3 linked regions of the Homo sapiens genome follow. The protein of the gene in region 3 interacts with the protein of the main gene of each other region in a pairwise test. Each region holds a gene or a part of one and is shown on either strand. Other genes may lie near its edges.

Region 1 (4,614 bases), on a different chromosome or scaffold from region 3:
TCCAGGGCTGTTGGGGGAGGCCTAACAGTGACAGTAACTTCTCACCTGCAGACAGGGCTTGACAGTCCACAGAGCTCCCTGGAGAGGGTCGGGGGCCGGGTAGGGAGAATGGTTGGTAAGTTGTGAGTAGAGTGAGGGATGGACTTGTGCGGTGAGGCTCCAGGGAGGGGAATGATGTCAACACTCACTGCTCCCCCCGAGGAGGGGGGTCGCTGGAGCCGGCGTGGGGCTGCCATCTCTCTGCATCTGTCTCTCCGCCACCGTTCTCCCTCTTTGTGTCAGCCTGTCTGTTAAGTCTCTCTCTCCTTCTCTCCATCTCTGTATCTCTACCCCATCTCTGCTATCTCTGCCTCTTTTTGTTTCCTACTGAGAAACCTGCATGCGATTGTGACATGGAGCCCCAGCTGCTGGAAGTACCCTGCCCAACCTAGGTCTGGCCTGAGACACCCCCCTTGGCTCAGGGATCTGCCAGGCTGGTGCCAAACTCATACATCCACTCATTCAGCCAACAAATATTTATTCAAGGTTTGCCACGAGCCAGACCCTGTGCTTGGCCTGGGCTGGAACAGTAAGCGAGGCCACCCAGGTCCTTGTTCTCTAGGAGCTCAGGTCCTAGTGGCAATGCCCAGCCTCTGCTCAGGGGCCCCACACACTGAATGAGTGGGAGCACCCCCAGGTGTGCTGAGCCCCAGATTGTTTGCTTTCTACCTCTACGATGACAGCAGGTCAGAGGTCGGGCCACCCACGTGGCAGTCAGAGTCAGGAGTGGGGGGTTTGCCCAAGGTAGCTCACCCACTCAGTGGTTCTTTGAAATGCAGTGTCCCTGGACACGTGCAGGGCTGCCAGCACTCTGAACACGGGGGTCTCTTCCAGGAGGGTGGGCTCTGATTGGATGGGCAGAGACCAGGGGCAGACTGGGTGGGAGGATCAACTCCCACCCCCCAAAACAAACCCCCAGTGCCTGAGGGAACGCTGGCCTCCTGAATGCCCCTCAAGGTTACAGGCAGCCAGAAGGGGAGTTGTGGGAGGCCAGTGACAAGGAGGAGGAGGGGAGAGGCTGGGGGCTCCTTCCAGGGCTATGCCAGCAACAGACTCTCCTCCCTTGCTGAGACCAGAAGGTGAGTGAGGGCTTTGCAATGAGGGCAGGGCATGGAGGTGACTGTCACTCTTTGCTGGCAGGGGGTCTCAGGACTATAGGAACTTTAGAGCCTTGCAAACCTGCTTACGTGGACTCTTGGACCTATAGTTGGATCTGGATGGGACCTCTGATGCCACGTGGTCCAACCTGGTCCCATCCTCTCCCTCCCCAGCCACATTGTACAGAGAAGGAAACTGAGGGAGTACAGAGAGAGGCACGGAGCTGCCCAAGGTCACACAGAGAGCCAGAGCTGAGTCCATATTGCAGGGCCGTGCCTTCCTATTCTTGAGATGCGGAGTGGGCCTGGTCCAATCTTGCAGTAGAGGAGGAGACTGTGGTGCTCTGACTTGGGAGGTAAAGGATGGTGAACCAGCAGCAGATGAAGACACCTGTTAGGAAGGAGAGGCCTCGGTGAGCCTGGAAAGGGGTGGGCAGAGAGTGGGGCAGCCTGGGCTGGTGGCTGCTGAGAGGGAGGAGACCCACCGTAACCACTCAAGAACTGCTGGGAAAGGCAAAAATGCAACCATTTCACAACCATTTCAAAAATGAAATAAAAAAGAACCAAATCGAAATCTTGGAAATGAAAAACAGAGACCTTCAAATAAAATATCTACCTATGCCTATTACAGAAAAGAAAGAGCAAAATAGAGGAATTTTCAGACATACAAAACAACCATCACTCCCTCTATAAAGGATTATTATGGGAGGCACTCCAGCAAGAGGAAAAGGGAAAGTGTGGGGTGAAAGAAATTATAGTAAGTACAGAACATGACTTAGAAAAACTCTATGTTTCAAGGAAATCTGTAACTAAACCTCTATATGCAAGACAAATATTGAGAAGAGTTCAATGGGCAATTCAAGTATACCAAGGGCTCTGTTGTATTGGAGAGGAAGAGAGAAATACAGAATAACTCAGACCCAGTGGAAACTTAGTAGAGTGAAGTGTGCAGGCTTACATATTAAGGTAACCTCTGAAAGAATAACGATGTCAGCTATAGTTTCAAAGTTCATTTCTCCCCAACCATCAACCCCTGGGATTCTCCAGGCATGGACTCATGATTCTCCACCTGGAGACAGCCTCAGATGGCCTTACAGTCATAATTTCTATGATTATTAATATAGTTCCCACATATTGAAGACCTAGTAGTTCCCACATATGCATTGTCATTGTTCATTGTGAAATCTGGCAGGCCAGGCACAGTGGCTCACGCCTGTAATCCCAGCACTTTCGGAGGCTGAGGCAGGTAGATCATCTGAGGTCAGGAGTTTGAGACCAGCCTGACCAGTATGGTGAAACCCCATTTCTACTAAAAATTCAAAAATTAGCTGGGCATGGTGGCATGTGCCTGTAGTTCCAGCTACTCAGGAGGCTGAAACCAGAAGAATTACTTGAACCCAGGAGGTGGAGGTCGCAGTGAGCTGAGATCGTGCCACTGCACTCCAGCCTGGGTGACAGAGCAAGACTCCATCTCAATTAAAAAAAAAAAAAAGCTGGTGAGATAAGTACGGGATTATCCCAATTTCGCGATGAATGAGGACGGAAGGAGCTGAGTGACTTGCTGGGTCAGGGATGGGGCTAGGATTTGGACCCAGGGCTGCCTGGCCCTAGCCACTAAGCCACACATCTCTCATGGGGCGCTGGGAGCCAGTCCTGGTCTTGGGGGCTTATACCCGCTGCATCTAGGACGCCTGGGTTTCTAGTGACTTCCCTGAACAGGTTGAGTCTCGTCACTCCTGTCTTGGCTGTTTCTCTCACAGTCAGACTGTGATGCCTCTCTGGGCTGTGGATGTAAGGAGCAAAGAGAACACATATAAACCATAGCACATGGACTGCTCTTACCCCTTTGCTGGGATCTCAGAGGAAGGGCCCTGCGGGGGCCAGTAACAAATACAGCAAGCATTTCCTTCCTACCTCCATAGATCCCTGGAGATCCCATCCATGTCATGTGGACATCATATCACATGATTCTGCCCTTCTGGTCGCAGCTGATTGGACCAGAGATGGACGATGGACACCCAACTTGCAAGGTCAGGTAGGGTTACGGCAGCCATGTTGGGTAACAATTTGGGGCCATGGGTAGTAAAGGGTAAGTGGAGAGAGAATGAAGGAGTTTCCACAGACACTAGGTGAGAGACTCCATAGCTCCAGGAAAAAGATAGAGAACGTATCTGCTTTGGTTTGGGTGGCTTTTTCTGATTCTGGTAGCAGCTCCCATGAAGGCAGCTGATATGTCTGGGATGTTTGTTGCTTCCAAATCTCATGTCCAAATGTGATTCCCAATGTTGGAGGTGGGGCCTGAGGGGAGGAGATTGGATCCTTGGAGCGGATCCTCATGCATGGCTTAGCACTATCCCCTTGGTGATGAGTGAGTGCTCACTTGGAGTTCATGCGAGATCTCGCTGTTTAAAACGGCATGGTGCCTCCCCACTCCCTTGCTCCCACTCTCGCCATGTGATACGCTGGCTCCCCTTTATCTTCCACCATGATTGGAAGCTTCCTGAGGCCTCACCAGGAGCAGATACTGGTGTTGTGCTTTGTCTAAAGCCTGCAGAACCATGAGCCAATTAACCCCATTTTCTTTATAAATTACCCAGTCTCGAGTATTCCTTTGTATTCTAGTAACACAAACGGACTAATACAGCAGCCAAACTTTGCTGCCCTGGATCCTTGCTCTGAGTATTTGAAATCAACATCCTTGACTTCAGCTAGCCTGAACAGAGTCCTGTGTCTTGCAAACCACCCTCTTCCCCACCTCCCAATACCTCCTGGGACAGACAACACAGCCCATCACCTCCCTGGTGCAGGGGCCTCACCTTGCAAGGAGTTGAAAAGTGCAAAGATGTAGACGGTGGAGAGGCCCAACGGGGTGAAGATGGCCAACCCCCATGTCACACCCACCAGGCTCGAGAGGCCCAGCAGGGTGAGCACCTTCTTCCGGTTCTTCCCCCGCTCCTTGACCGCTGTAGCACGGGACAGGGTGAAGATCTTCCAGACCACCAGGGCCAGGACCACCATGCCAAAGAGGAAGGTGATGAGGAAGTAGCCGTGGACGGTGATATAGAGGGCGTACATGGTTGTCCCTTCACGGAACCAGCATCTGGAGGAGGGGGCAGCTGTGGTGGGACTGGGAGTGGTACCTCTGGCCAGCAAACCCAGGAAGTCCCCTGGCTGAGCTTTTCTGTCTGTGAAGGTGCCTCTCCCATTTCCACCCATCAATCCCTGGCTCTCCCGCTGTGGGAGGGGCCGTCACCTGGCTCCAGTCTGGTGTCTCTTTAATGCCAAAGTGACCTCAAAGACATGTTTCATTTGCCCCATATTACATTGTGAAAAAAACGGAATTAGTGGCCGCCTTTAAAATCAGAAGCTTTGGTATAAACACCTAGATTTCTGCTTCTCCTATAAAATCATACACCTGGCAGCTCTGTGGATGCCCTCCTGAAGGATAGTAACTGACCGCTAATTAGATGGGCTTGTG
Region 2 (4,891 bases), on a different chromosome or scaffold from region 3:
GAACTTTGATTGTACCTTCTATTCAACTATGGGTATAAAACCCTAGCCAGTGAAAATAAATGAAAATAAAACTACGTTATAGCATATAGATTAAAAAAATAAAAGTGTGATCATGTGCAGATAAAATTGCTCGTTATATAGAACACCCAGAAATAAATCAATAGTTGACATAATAGATTTACATATATAAAATCAGTGGAATAAGTAGATATAAAATCAAAATGCAGACATCAGTTGTATTTCTATTTATAACAACAAAAATTACTAAAGGGAATTTTAGAATCAGGATGCCATTTACAAAAGCATAAATGTAAAATACCTACATTTCTGTATGACTTCAATCCCCCAAAATACAAAATACAATAGAGAGAAATTAAAGATAACACAGTACATTGAAGGAAACACTTTATATTGATTAGAAAAGTCAATATTATAAAGAAGCTAATCTTTAAAAATTACTTTAGAGAATAAATGCAGTCACAAATAATCCCAGGAGAGGCTTTTTTTTTTTTTCTGGATAGCTTTATTGAAGTGTCGTGTACAAAGCATACATTTCATGCACTTAAAATGATTAAAAATCAATGATGTTTAGTATATTCGCAGAGTTACAACCATCACCACTACTGAAATTTAGAAAGTTTTCATCACGACACAAAGTAACGTTCTATCAGTTAGAGGTCATCTCCTATTTCAACCTCCCTCAGACATTGGCAACCACTATTCTACTTTCTGTCTCCATGGGTTTGACTGTTCTTGGTACTTCCTATAAGCTGACTCACATAACATGCAACTTTTAGAAAGGCTGAAAACCACAAATACCATGTTGAGCAAAATGAGCCCGACACAAATGCTAGGATGTCTGTACTTTAGTAATTGTGTGTATCCTGTTTCAATAATTGATTTAGAATTTTCTTATTAGAGCAAATAACATAATTCATTTTAAGATTTATGCAATCATAATATATTTCTATTTTAAGAAATATACAATTTATCTGATGCACTGCAAATGCAAACGCTTTACCTCTAAAGCTTATGCTTACAATGATATATTATTGAAGATCCACACTGGGCTGATTTAAGTCGATTTACTTGTAGCACTGCACAGTTAAGTTCAGCATTATCTGAGTCTTTTATCCTGTAATGGAGAAAAATCCATATTCTGTTACATTTTAAGCAAATGATTCATGAGACGAAAGCATTTTCCATGTACTGTAAGAAAATAATTTCATGGAAAAGGGTAATTAAATTTTTCATAATATTAGTAAGAGTCATTATTCTGAACACTCAACAGAGTAGTCCCCCTTCATCCACGAGGGATATGTTTCAAGATTCCAGTGGATGCCTGAAACGGCAGATAGTGCAGAACCTATAGAGAGATTATGTTTTCTCTACACATTCATAACTGTGATAAAATTTAATTTATAAATTAGGCACAATAAGAGATTGACAACAATAACTACTAATAACAAAATTATAGCAATATGCCAACAGCACTACTCTTGTGCTTTGAGGATATTCTTAAGAAAAAAAGTAAGTGTGGCTTTTTAATAAAAACAAGCACTGCAATTCCCTGATAGTCCAGCTCGAGCTTGTCCAACTCGCTGCCCACGGGCCGCATGTGACCCAGGACAGCTTCAAATGCGGCCCAATACATATACGTAAACTTTCTTAAAACATTCTGTGATTTTTTTTTTCTTTTTTTTGCTCGTCAGCTATCGTTAGTGTTAGTGTATTTTATGTGTGGCCCAAGACTCTTCTTCTTCCAATGTGGCCCACAGAAGCCAAAGATTGGACACCTGATAATCAAGAAGGTTACTAGCTGACCAATGAGCGGTTGAAATATATGGACTACTATGGTCTATTGTAAAATATTTATGTCAGCATTTCACTAACTTTCCACATCTTTCTTCATCTCTATGATTCCACATAGATTTATTCATATTATTCTTCTGAATTTATCCTTTATATATATATTGTTATATAGCGCCATACAAAACAACTTACTCATGTTTGAAAGCCAAACCATTCATTGTCACCCATGGATGATGACTGCTGTTACGAAACACACCAATCCATGAGGATGGTGAAATGATGGACAGAAATTTCTAAAAGAAAAGAAAGAATTTTCACTTAAATAATAATTATGAAAACATTACAAAAACAATATATTAAATTTGAAAACCACTATTTGCAGTGCCAAAAACTTTCATAAATGTTTATAATTTTGATATAAATGAACCCGTCAATGTTTATACTTAGTACTTTTATTCTTCTCATGTTAATAAAGAAGTTTTAATTCTTGCATTATAATAGTTACCCCAATTGACTGAATAAACACAGTAAGGATTTAAATAAGTCTCCTGATACTGTGCATTCATTCCTCCAGATACTGTGACTAAATCAAACTATTTTTGTGCTATATTTCTCAGAGTTGGAGATTTAGAAGAGAAATTAGAGGTTGTGATTCAGAAATAAATGACATGGAAGCTACATATTGGGTTTTCTGGGTACCACACCATTCTTTAACTAGATAAGCCCTCACTTTTTTATCTGATTTGGTTTTGGTGGAATAACAGTGATCCTGACCAGGTGGTGTAGACTCGTCTCTCTCTGCTACTCCCTACTAAAAACAACTATAAACTCTGGGATTAATGAAAGACAAAAGCAATGGAGAACTCTGAAAGGTGGAAAGAGAAAGATGAAATTGTCTGGGACCCTAGCATCAGGGATCAACCAAGTGTCCGAGCGAGCATGTTAAGTCCTCCACACGACAGAAGAAGGTGACCTAGGCCTGCTGTTTCCCTACACCCAACCTGGCAATAGGAGGAGGCCCAGCAAAGCTCACTCCTGTTCTGTATTGAAGGGGAGTCCCCTCCGCAACAACAGGCAAGGCTGGTACCACTGGCAAGGATGATCTACCAGGAGACTTGCTACCAATACAGCCAGAGGAAGTACTTCCTTCTCATACCAAGAGACACCAGAGTGGATGTGGGTGAGGAGGATCAGCAAAGGAACCCAATGACTACCAGTGCACCACCCAGGGTCCTCTTTGTCCCTGAGGGCATGAGACTCACTTCCCCATCCAGAGACACAGGATTGAATGGATTCTTAGTGTTCTTTGTACATACTACAGCAGTGAACAGTAATAAACGACAGATAACCGCAATAATATGGAGGAATTGCATAAATATCAGATAGGAGTGAAAAACACAGACATGAAATTCACAGTGTATGATTCCCTTTATATAAATTCAAAAGCAGGTAAACGTTATTTATAACATTAAAAGTCAAGACAGTGTTTTGGAGAGGAGTCAGGATAAGTGATGAGGGCATACACAGGGGTGGAACTACTAGAGCTGGAAACTTTTATTTCATGATCTGACTTGTATCACAGGAGTTCATTCACTTTGTGATCAATCTGCATGACCAGATCACATCATGCCCGATAAAATTAGATAGCAAAATGTATTGTGGATTGAAAGCATTTCTAGAAGCATGGTTTTCCATGAAAAGCAAAAACTGAAAATAATCAAAAGTACATTAGCAGTATATGAATTTTAAAACATTATTAAGTCAATCAATTAAATACTACATAAACTTGAAAACATATAAGCTAAATGTATATACCCACACATATGGATGATTTCTACAAATATATTATCGACCGAAAGAAGCTTTTCATAAAGTGTTTAAAACATTTACATCTTACCATTTCTTCTTCATTATCTATAGAAAGCAGACTGGAGTTCTTCGAAGTACAGGCCAGCAAACTCTCTTCCCAAGTTCTTCTTTCCTTACCAATGTAGTAACAACTGTTGGAATATGTAATCCACTCCTCAGGACAATGGCCACAATGACGTGCTAAATAAAGATATGAATTACTATCTAGACCAATATGAATTTTTAAAAATGAAAATTAGTTCACATATTTGCAAACATATAAACCTATACGTATGCAACATATCTATACATCTTCATGGGCTGGTAAATATATAGTGTCAAAATACCCAGTCACTTATACACACATGCGCAATAAAGGGTCAGCCTTTCATCTCCTAATTGTGTTCCCATATAAAGCAAACCAGCAAACAAAAATCCACTCTATACATGTCTTGAAAAATCAATGAACTAATCTGATTTTTAAGGAACAATAAATAACTTGTATCTTATCATATTATAGCAGTAAGAATTTGAACACAACAGATAAAAAGAAAGCATAGTGATTTTACTTATAGTTGATGACAAGTGAATGCCTTACTCTAATTTTATTTATGAACACTTATTGCCAAATTTTATAATTTTTCACCCAAAATTTTATTTTTGTACAGCCTAAGATCAAGAAAAAATAAACTGTACAATATTAAAACTTTAAAAATTATTATATACCTTTCTGAGTTCTTGTATTCAGGGAAGAATTGTTGTGCCTCTGTATTAATGTAGCTAGAAAAATTAAAGTAATCTTTGTAAAAAAATTAGCATCTAAATCAATCATAATAATTTTAAGTTTTTGTTTGAATTTTTTTGTATTATTTAGAGTTAGAATAATATGGAATAAAATTGATTTTAAGAAAAATTTGATAAAGTAATGGTGGTTTTTTGGAAAAGTATTTCATAGATCTAAAGAACCAAATTTCACCATCTCATATAGTTCTTATAATTCTTGATTTAACTACTTTCAAAAATTAATTTCTATTTCTCAGTAAGGTTTTTCAGACTCCTAGAACATATTTTTGAGTTATGAAATCCAAATATATACATACGATTGCATCAGAAGCGAATACTTTCAACAATTATTCTTTCATTTATTCTTTGACAAATTCAGAATAATCATTCCACATTTAGTCCAAATATATACATTACAATGAGAACTCTATTCCCTGAAAATATGAAA
Region 3 (7,429 bases):
TGGAATCTGAAATATAAAAATCAGCCAGAAATTGAAAGTTACCCTTTTATTTAAGAGGTCAATTCTTTCTTACCTAATCTACTTTTTGGTGGGGAAGGGCAGCCATTTAAAATATCCTGAATCCAAATGTCTTACACAAAAACTATTAATGTCAACATGTACCCTTCTCAGGCTTGGATCCCTTGGACATTTTATTTCATTAGCATCTCATTATACAATTTCACAGTAAGGAAAAAATACTTTCTCTGAAGAAAATGTATCTTAAAGCAATGACATGTTTCTTTTCTTTTTTTTTTTTAAGTGACAGCGACAGAATTACTTAAGTGCATTGGACACCTTGTTCTGTGGAGCCACACACAGGGACTTGATTCTACAGGTCATCAACTCAAGAGCCCACCCTTTTGCAATAGGGTGCAATGATCTAATTAATAGTTGCAGTACCTGTGTAGTCCTGCCTGGCACATAGTGGGGATTTGATAAGTAGGTGGGGATGAATGAGTGTTTTCTTTTTACACCATTTTTGTGCAAAATGTTATTTATTTTTAATTTCTATTATGTGATCAAGCACACTAAGGTATGAAAATTATAAATAAACTGCCCAGAATTATAAAAATCGTTACCAAAAAGGTAGCACCACCCCCTACCACCCCAACGCCAAATGATGGTAGATCCCTAGTTTTTCACTGGCACGTTGGAATGAATTGAAGGTGTCATCCCTCAGGTGTTAACGGCCTGTAGGGTGCAGTGAAGCAATGCTGTCTGTATTTTAAATATTCCTAAACCACATAATTGCAGTACCTAATTTTTAAAACTTCTGGATCAGAAACCTAGTTACGTGACTTGACGTGGTTTCAAAAGTAGGTGTCAAAACAGCCCATCCATTGAGCAAGGACACTCTTGGGCTTGTCCAGTTTCCATTCACATGTGATAGACAGGACACTTTATCCTGCAAAGATATACTATCAACCTTATTTATATTTATCTGGCAGACTAGCGAGACCAATCTTTAGACTTTAACAGGAACGGAATTGCCTAGCTAGGCAGGACTGAATTTGCGGTGACCAACAGAGACAAACTTACTCAAAATGCTGCATTATTCTGCAACAGTTCTGAAGTTAACTGTGGAAATGTTAACATGGCTTTGAATGATTCAAGTAATACACATCCTGATACTGAGCCTAAATAGAATCCCTCTCTACTTTTAGCACTAAAGGAAGCCTGGGCTGCATTCCTGTTTGTATAACTGTAGTCTCTCAAAGTACATTTCATTCTCCAACCCACTCACCCACCCTAGATGTGTAAATCTCCCAAATGATCCTATTATCCATCCCCACCACAACTGTGAGTCATCTGTATAAGCCACCTCGTTATCTAAGCAACAGAATCACCACATAAGCAAATATTATTCCCCTACAAATCTTTTAGAAATTCTGTGTATTATTCTAGTGAACAGTAACTTGCATTCAGGATATACACACAAAGATACAAAATATTTCATATAAATTCAAAGAATTCATGGCCCTCTTGCTTACCAGCAAAGAACTTCAGGTAAAGATTTCCTGGCTCTTTCTAGGTGTTTCATAGATTTTAAATCCTCCCACTCCCCTTGTTTTTGGCTCATATACACGGCAACATCTCTATATTTTTTTCCAAGTACAGCCCTCCTGTTCCAATACAATAGCCCTGATGCTTCAAAATTCAAAGGGGGGCTAAGGGTAAATATATTTTATACTCTCAAAACATAGACTCAAGTCTACTAGAAAGCCTACGAACAATGATTTCATAAACATGAGGATGTCTTCAGCTACAGATGTCAACAGGCAGTTTCAGAACTGTTGCCAGCCCCCACTGCTGCACTGGGAAGTCTGTTCTCTGCTTGTTTCTGCAAAGTCAGCCTGCAGACACGTCTGCTTGGGCTGGGAGTGGACCCTGTTATTCTCAACTCACTGCTGCTTTTAAGCTCTGGGTCAGCAGGAGACCTTTGTCTTCAGCCTCAGCCCCAATCTCAGCTTTACTTCTTCCCCATCTTCATCTTCCTCTTAATATCTGCTTGAGGAATTTTTAAGGGACTGCAGGGCAAGGCTACTGCCTAGCTGAGAACATCAGAAAACACCATGAGGGTGCCTAGTCAGGAATCGGTGGTATCAGAAGGCACCCTTAACGAACTGGAACTTTTAACTTCAAATAATAAGCCCTACTGTTCCACCTGGTTTTCTTTGTCTTTCTTTGTGTGTTTCATAGTGAAAACGGCTACTTGCTGATATCTCAAAAGGATAGTGCTGCACACAGCTTATCAGCCAGGGACAGTCAACGCTGTCAATATGAGTGGTTGAGTTGTGATCCTTTGTAAACAAATCAGAACATCCTTGTTACATTTTGGAAGGTTGGACGTTTTAGGTGACTGAAAAAAAAAATACGATAATGGGCAAACAGCTTTCAGAAATAAATTACTGCAGCTTAGGAAAGAAAAAAAAGCCTGTTTTACTACTTCTTCATCCAGTATCAATAACATTATAAACTTAACCATGCTTTAAAAATAAAGGCATCATTACATTTTACCCCCTCGCTTCTTAACTTTATCTAGCAATTGTTTAATTAGACTTATCTAACAGCTAGATCTAAATTCACAACTATGATCCGAAAGGCATGTATGCGATGATTGCTCATGCATCAATTGTAAAGTTAGAGAAAAGCATTTAATTAGCCCGTCAAAGATACAGGTTGGGTCAAGTACCTGGCTCTGGCTGAACAAACACTTGATCCATTTCCTGGTGGAACAGTTACAGGTAGTTACAAGCCTCTTTAGTTTCCATTCTTCCCGACCACGCTGTGTGAAAGCAGTAGACAGTGGTAGCTGCAAGGCAGCTGATGGCACACCCCAGGTCTAAAGCTGTTGTTTCAGGCTTAGAAACTTCCCATTAAAACCCCGAGTTAAAGGAGCATCGTCTTTCTGTGTGAGGCATCATTAACGGCCAATACTGCTGCTTCTTTGAGGTGAGCCATGATTTCAGTTCTGCCTCAGCAACTCTTCAGAGGATTCTGCTTCAGCGAGTAGAGGCAGTATCCTAGCAGTGTGTCTGAAATCATCTTCAAGAAAGCATTAACATTCAAAAGGAGTACGGGGTTGGGGGGTGGGGAAACATCACAGGCATTCCTATACCTTTTCAAAATCAAAGCCATAAATCTACCAGTGCTCTGTCCTCTTTATTGATTGTTGACACTATTCCTCTTTGGGAGTGTCAATTAGCACGTCGCAGCAAGTCTTCATATTGATTATTGTTGATGACCTTCAGGCCAACTCAATTAACAGGAAGACTTCTGGGGAAGGGCATCAACTTAGCATTTGGGAGAGGGAGAAAAGGCTCATTTTCCTAAAGAAAACTAAAGTGACCTTTCCAAAAAGCAGCATTTATGGGAAGGAAAGAACCATTTAAAAATATCAAAATCATAGTTTCACCACCTGTCACCTGCTTGTAAATTAGCTGGGCAGTTGGTTGCCAGGTCCAGTGTCTCTCTGAGCAGCCTGCATAATTGTGGCATTGGGAAAGCCCCCACCCCACACAGGGCACCTGAGACCACTCGATGAATAAAGAAGATTGATTTTTGTGAGAGAAAGTTGTTCTCATTCTGCAGATTCTAGTTACTTGCTACAATGCTTAAATTACTTTCGTTGGATAAGTAAATTTGGAAAATATTTTAGGATAAAATTCTTCATTAAAAAAACACTTCTCTAAGAAGAATTCAGCCTAATGCTTAAGACGGAGCATCCTTGTTTTTTGGCAACTCACCACTTTCTTTGTTGAAGTGGCGGCACAGTTAGCGACAACACACCCACCCACCAAATGATGGGGTGCGTGATATTTAAAGCTGCCTCTGACTGTGCCTGTCAGCTATGCTGTCTCCTCAGCTCTTGTGAGCAACCGGCCATTACCCAAAGGCTCTAGGAAACTGGAACCAAGCTCATCTTCTAAGAGGGAAACCCCATCTGCTCACAACGGACCACAATCCTGGATAGGATAGGCCTCGGACCCCAAAGGAACCTTTCAAATCAAATGCTAAATGTTAGGATCGAATGCTTGATGTTAGAGTCTAACCTCAAGACAATATGCAGGTTCTTTCCCCATTTGTTTTCCTAATTTTTAACTGAATTTTCTTTCCAATTCATTTTACTTACCCTATTTTCAGACACACACATACCACACACCGTAAGACAATGGGACACATGAAATCCAACTGAGCACGATCATCCTGTACTAACTGGCATCCCTCTTGCATTTAGTCAATTCTGGCAGAGGGAGTGCCTGTTTTGGCAATGCCAACAGAGTGTGGTTGAGGAATCTTTCCGACCTCACCCTCCTTCCTATAATTATCATTCCATGCGGTGAGAAAATATCATAGTTAGACATGAGCCTGGGTGACTGTAGCTTACCCTGCCAAAGAGGCCTTCTCGGATATGGTTTAGCCTACAGACTCGTAGAGGGAGAAGGGAACCTGAAAAGGCCTGGGGCTGTCCTCTAGCTACTCTGCAGGCTGAAACCATCCCAGAGAGATGAGTGCCTGGCCTATTTTAAAAAGTCTCCAGAGAAGTAGATGCCATAACTTCCTCTGACAACCTCTGTTTAAACAAACTCCTCTGCTGCTTACTTAGTCTAAATGTGTTGGCGCATTTCTTTTCATTCTGTCCTTGCTGCAAAAAGTCAGGCACTAACCACTCCAAAATTTTGTTAGAATGCCCTTTCCTTTCAGAGAAGCCGAACTAGATAAACCAAAGAGTATTTGATGAAGATCTGGTGTTATGCTTGGAGCTAAATTTAAACCTTTCTTCTTAAAGATAATTATAATGGAAATTATTAAAATCAGCCCTTCCCCTTATGCAGCTATATTATGTGAATCATCATGAATTCTAAAACAATGAATAAGGGTTTACCAAAGTTCCATTTGAACATTTTATATTAGATCCTATTTCTTTCGCTTTTAATAATCTTTATATCTCTTCTCTGAATTCTTAAAATTTCTGCTCTCTGGTGCAACATTAAATAGGAAGCCTAGAATACTATACCGAGCTGTACACAGCTCAGATACACACGGAATTGTGATGAAACAGGATGATTTTATGATGTATAAATGGCTATATATGCTGTGCTTCTACTTACCCATTCTGATCCAGGGCCACTCCTGGGTGTAACTTAGTCTTTCTCTTTAGTTACACAACATCATGAGTTATTATTAGTTAGAAATCTACTTTAAAAACTTCTACATTTTTATTTCAAGCCTCACCTTTAATGTTCTTTAATTTGCAATTCTTTCCTAAATGTCCTATGATGCACTTTTCCATGAAGAAATAGATAATGAATCTGAAAAAAAGACTATAAGCCATCAGTCTTCATGCCAGTACAAGGCTGTATTATTATTATTACTGTGTTTCTGTCTAACTCTGCCTAATTCTCAAAATAAATTGAACAAAAACTCTATATAACTTTCAAAATATAAACATGGTTCTTATCAATAGACTCTTTGTAAAAATCTTTTCTTCTCTCCTTTGTGTATGTCCTTTCTTTCACTTATCCAGGGATCATTCATTAGCTCTCAATGTCAGATATGTTCTGTGTTAGGTGTTGCAAAAAATAAACAACACGAATACTGGGTCCTGGCTTCTGTTTGTTCAGGTTGTGCACTGAACAACTCTAGGAGATTCCTTGGTAAACAGGGCCCTGAGGAGCTCCACTTCTAGCGATGGTTGCTGAGCTTCTTGACAGACTGGCCCACTTCCACTAAATTCCAATTCCTAACCTTCCCAACCTCCCCCTTCATGGCTCACCCAGCAGACATCTGAACTGTCTCCTCACCTTTCTACAGGACCTGATTTCACAAGGTCACTAGTGGCTTCTGGTTGCCTCAAGCCAAAGAGTCCTTTTAGTGTTCATCTTCCTTGCTTTTTGGCAACATTGAACACAGCTGAACACTCACTGAAAGGAAGGTTCAGAAAAAGAACACATGGATTAAAATGAGTGGCGGGAACATATATCTCAGCCCTTAGGCCCCTCTCCCTTAGTGCCTTCTCTCTTCATCGCCTCTCTATTGCACTCTGGGGTTCAGGCCAAATAAAATTCATGCAACTACCAGCAAATGGGAAATGAAGGTGGAAAGACAAGCAGGCTAGAATACATGTTAATAACCCCGCCACTTTTTAATTCATTTTAAAAAAGTGCTAGTCAGTTTATGTGTGTTATTTTTATTTCTGTCTTCTTGTTTTAAAAAAAATATATCAGGCAACATAAAGCTTTGCTTTAAAAAAAAAAAAGTCAAGATTAGCTCTATTTCTAAAATCTCTCTGATTTGCCAGGTCTAAGTTTATTTATCCATTCAGCTATCTTCACAGATCAGTGAACATTCAAAGCTTAAGGGAACAGTGGGAAAGGTTTAATGATATTCACACCAAGCCTATACATTGGGATCTATATTTAAGAGCTATTAAAAGCAAGCAGGTTAAAGTCCAACTGCAGATTGGCAGCCTCCTTGTTTGATCTTTTCTTGAATGCATTTCTGTATATATCACATCTGTTTTAATGCTAAATGCTCAATTAGTAGCTGATACATCTAGAATAGAGAAGCACTCAAAATGAAGACGAGAATGCTGCAACGAAGTGGAAATATATGTGCAAGAAAAAAAACACTGACAGAATTTAATACTTGTGAGGATTATAGATTGCCCTATAAAATTTTGTTAATCCTTTCCTGTATAAGTAAGAACAAAGCATATAGCTAGGTGATGAATCATGCTGCCAAAAAGCTGATCTCCAACCCTAAGAAGGAGCAGCTTCACAAAATACACAGCAGTAGTTCTATTTAGAAGCAACATTTGCAACATTTAAGTTATTAATTCTAATTACAGTATAAAAGTATAAGGACATCACTATGGATTATTCACTGTTCAAAGGAAATACTTTGGCTCTAACAGCCTGGTGGGTAAATTTATTCTTTTAAAGTGACTTGTACAATAATAACAATTTTCTTAATGGGTTTGAAATACTTAATGCCTTTAAAATATCATACAAAGTGCCAATTAGTTTATACAAATCATTCCTCTATATTTTTATGCTGTCATTTTGGAACTCTTCTTTCTCTGTTCAACAGCTACGTTTTAGAAAGGAAACTACTGCATGGACAGTTTGAGGATTGAGCAGCTTAGAACATTAGGATAATTGAGAAAATGAAATAGAAGGTACCTGGGAATAACTGACCTGTTAGCCCGACTTTAATACCTAACACAATTCTGGAACTGAAAATCCTTCCACCGATAAATCAATTTTGAAAACACCCAGAGGAGAAAAATATCATATGAAGCAGTTAAAAAATGCTTGTTTAAAAAAAATCATGGAAACCCGATTTCCATTTCTGATATTTATACTTGTAGAATGGTGGAAAGGAG

The links.
Region 1: the proteins of CTXN3 (region 3) and ADGRG3 interact in binary tests that used the Homo sapiens proteins (3 or more experiments, as listed by UniProt).
Region 2: the proteins of CTXN3 (region 3) and KLRC1 interact in binary tests that used the Homo sapiens proteins (3 or more experiments, as listed by UniProt).

What each region holds. Positions count from the first base shown.
Region 1 is NC_000016.10:57,685,265-57,689,878, reverse strand, and holds the end of ADGRG3 (adhesion G protein-coupled receptor G3 isoform 1 precursor), read right to left. Parts: intron 4,237-4,614; coding exon 3,953-4,236; intron 1,528-3,952; coding exon 1,418-1,527; coding exon of another isoform or gene 1,192-1,417; 3' UTR 501-1,191; downstream 1-500. UniProt on the Homo sapiens protein: Adhesion G-protein coupled receptor (aGPCR) for glucocorticoid hormones such as cortisol, cortisone and 11-deoxycortisol.
Region 2 is NC_000012.12:10,445,528-10,450,418, forward strand, and holds the end of KLRC1 (NKG2-A/NKG2-B type II integral membrane protein), read right to left. Parts: intron 4,441-4,891; coding exon 4,387-4,440; intron 3,862-4,386; coding exon 3,710-3,861; intron 2,106-3,709; coding exon 2,005-2,105; intron 1,136-2,004; coding exon 1,024-1,135; 3' UTR 501-1,023; downstream 1-500. UniProt on the Homo sapiens protein: Immune inhibitory receptor involved in self-nonself discrimination.
Region 3 is NC_000005.10:127,644,694-127,652,122, reverse strand, and holds the start of CTXN3 (cortexin-3), read right to left. Parts: upstream 3,042-7,429; 5' UTR 2,735-3,041; intron 381-2,734; exon of another isoform or gene 302-380; intron 1-301.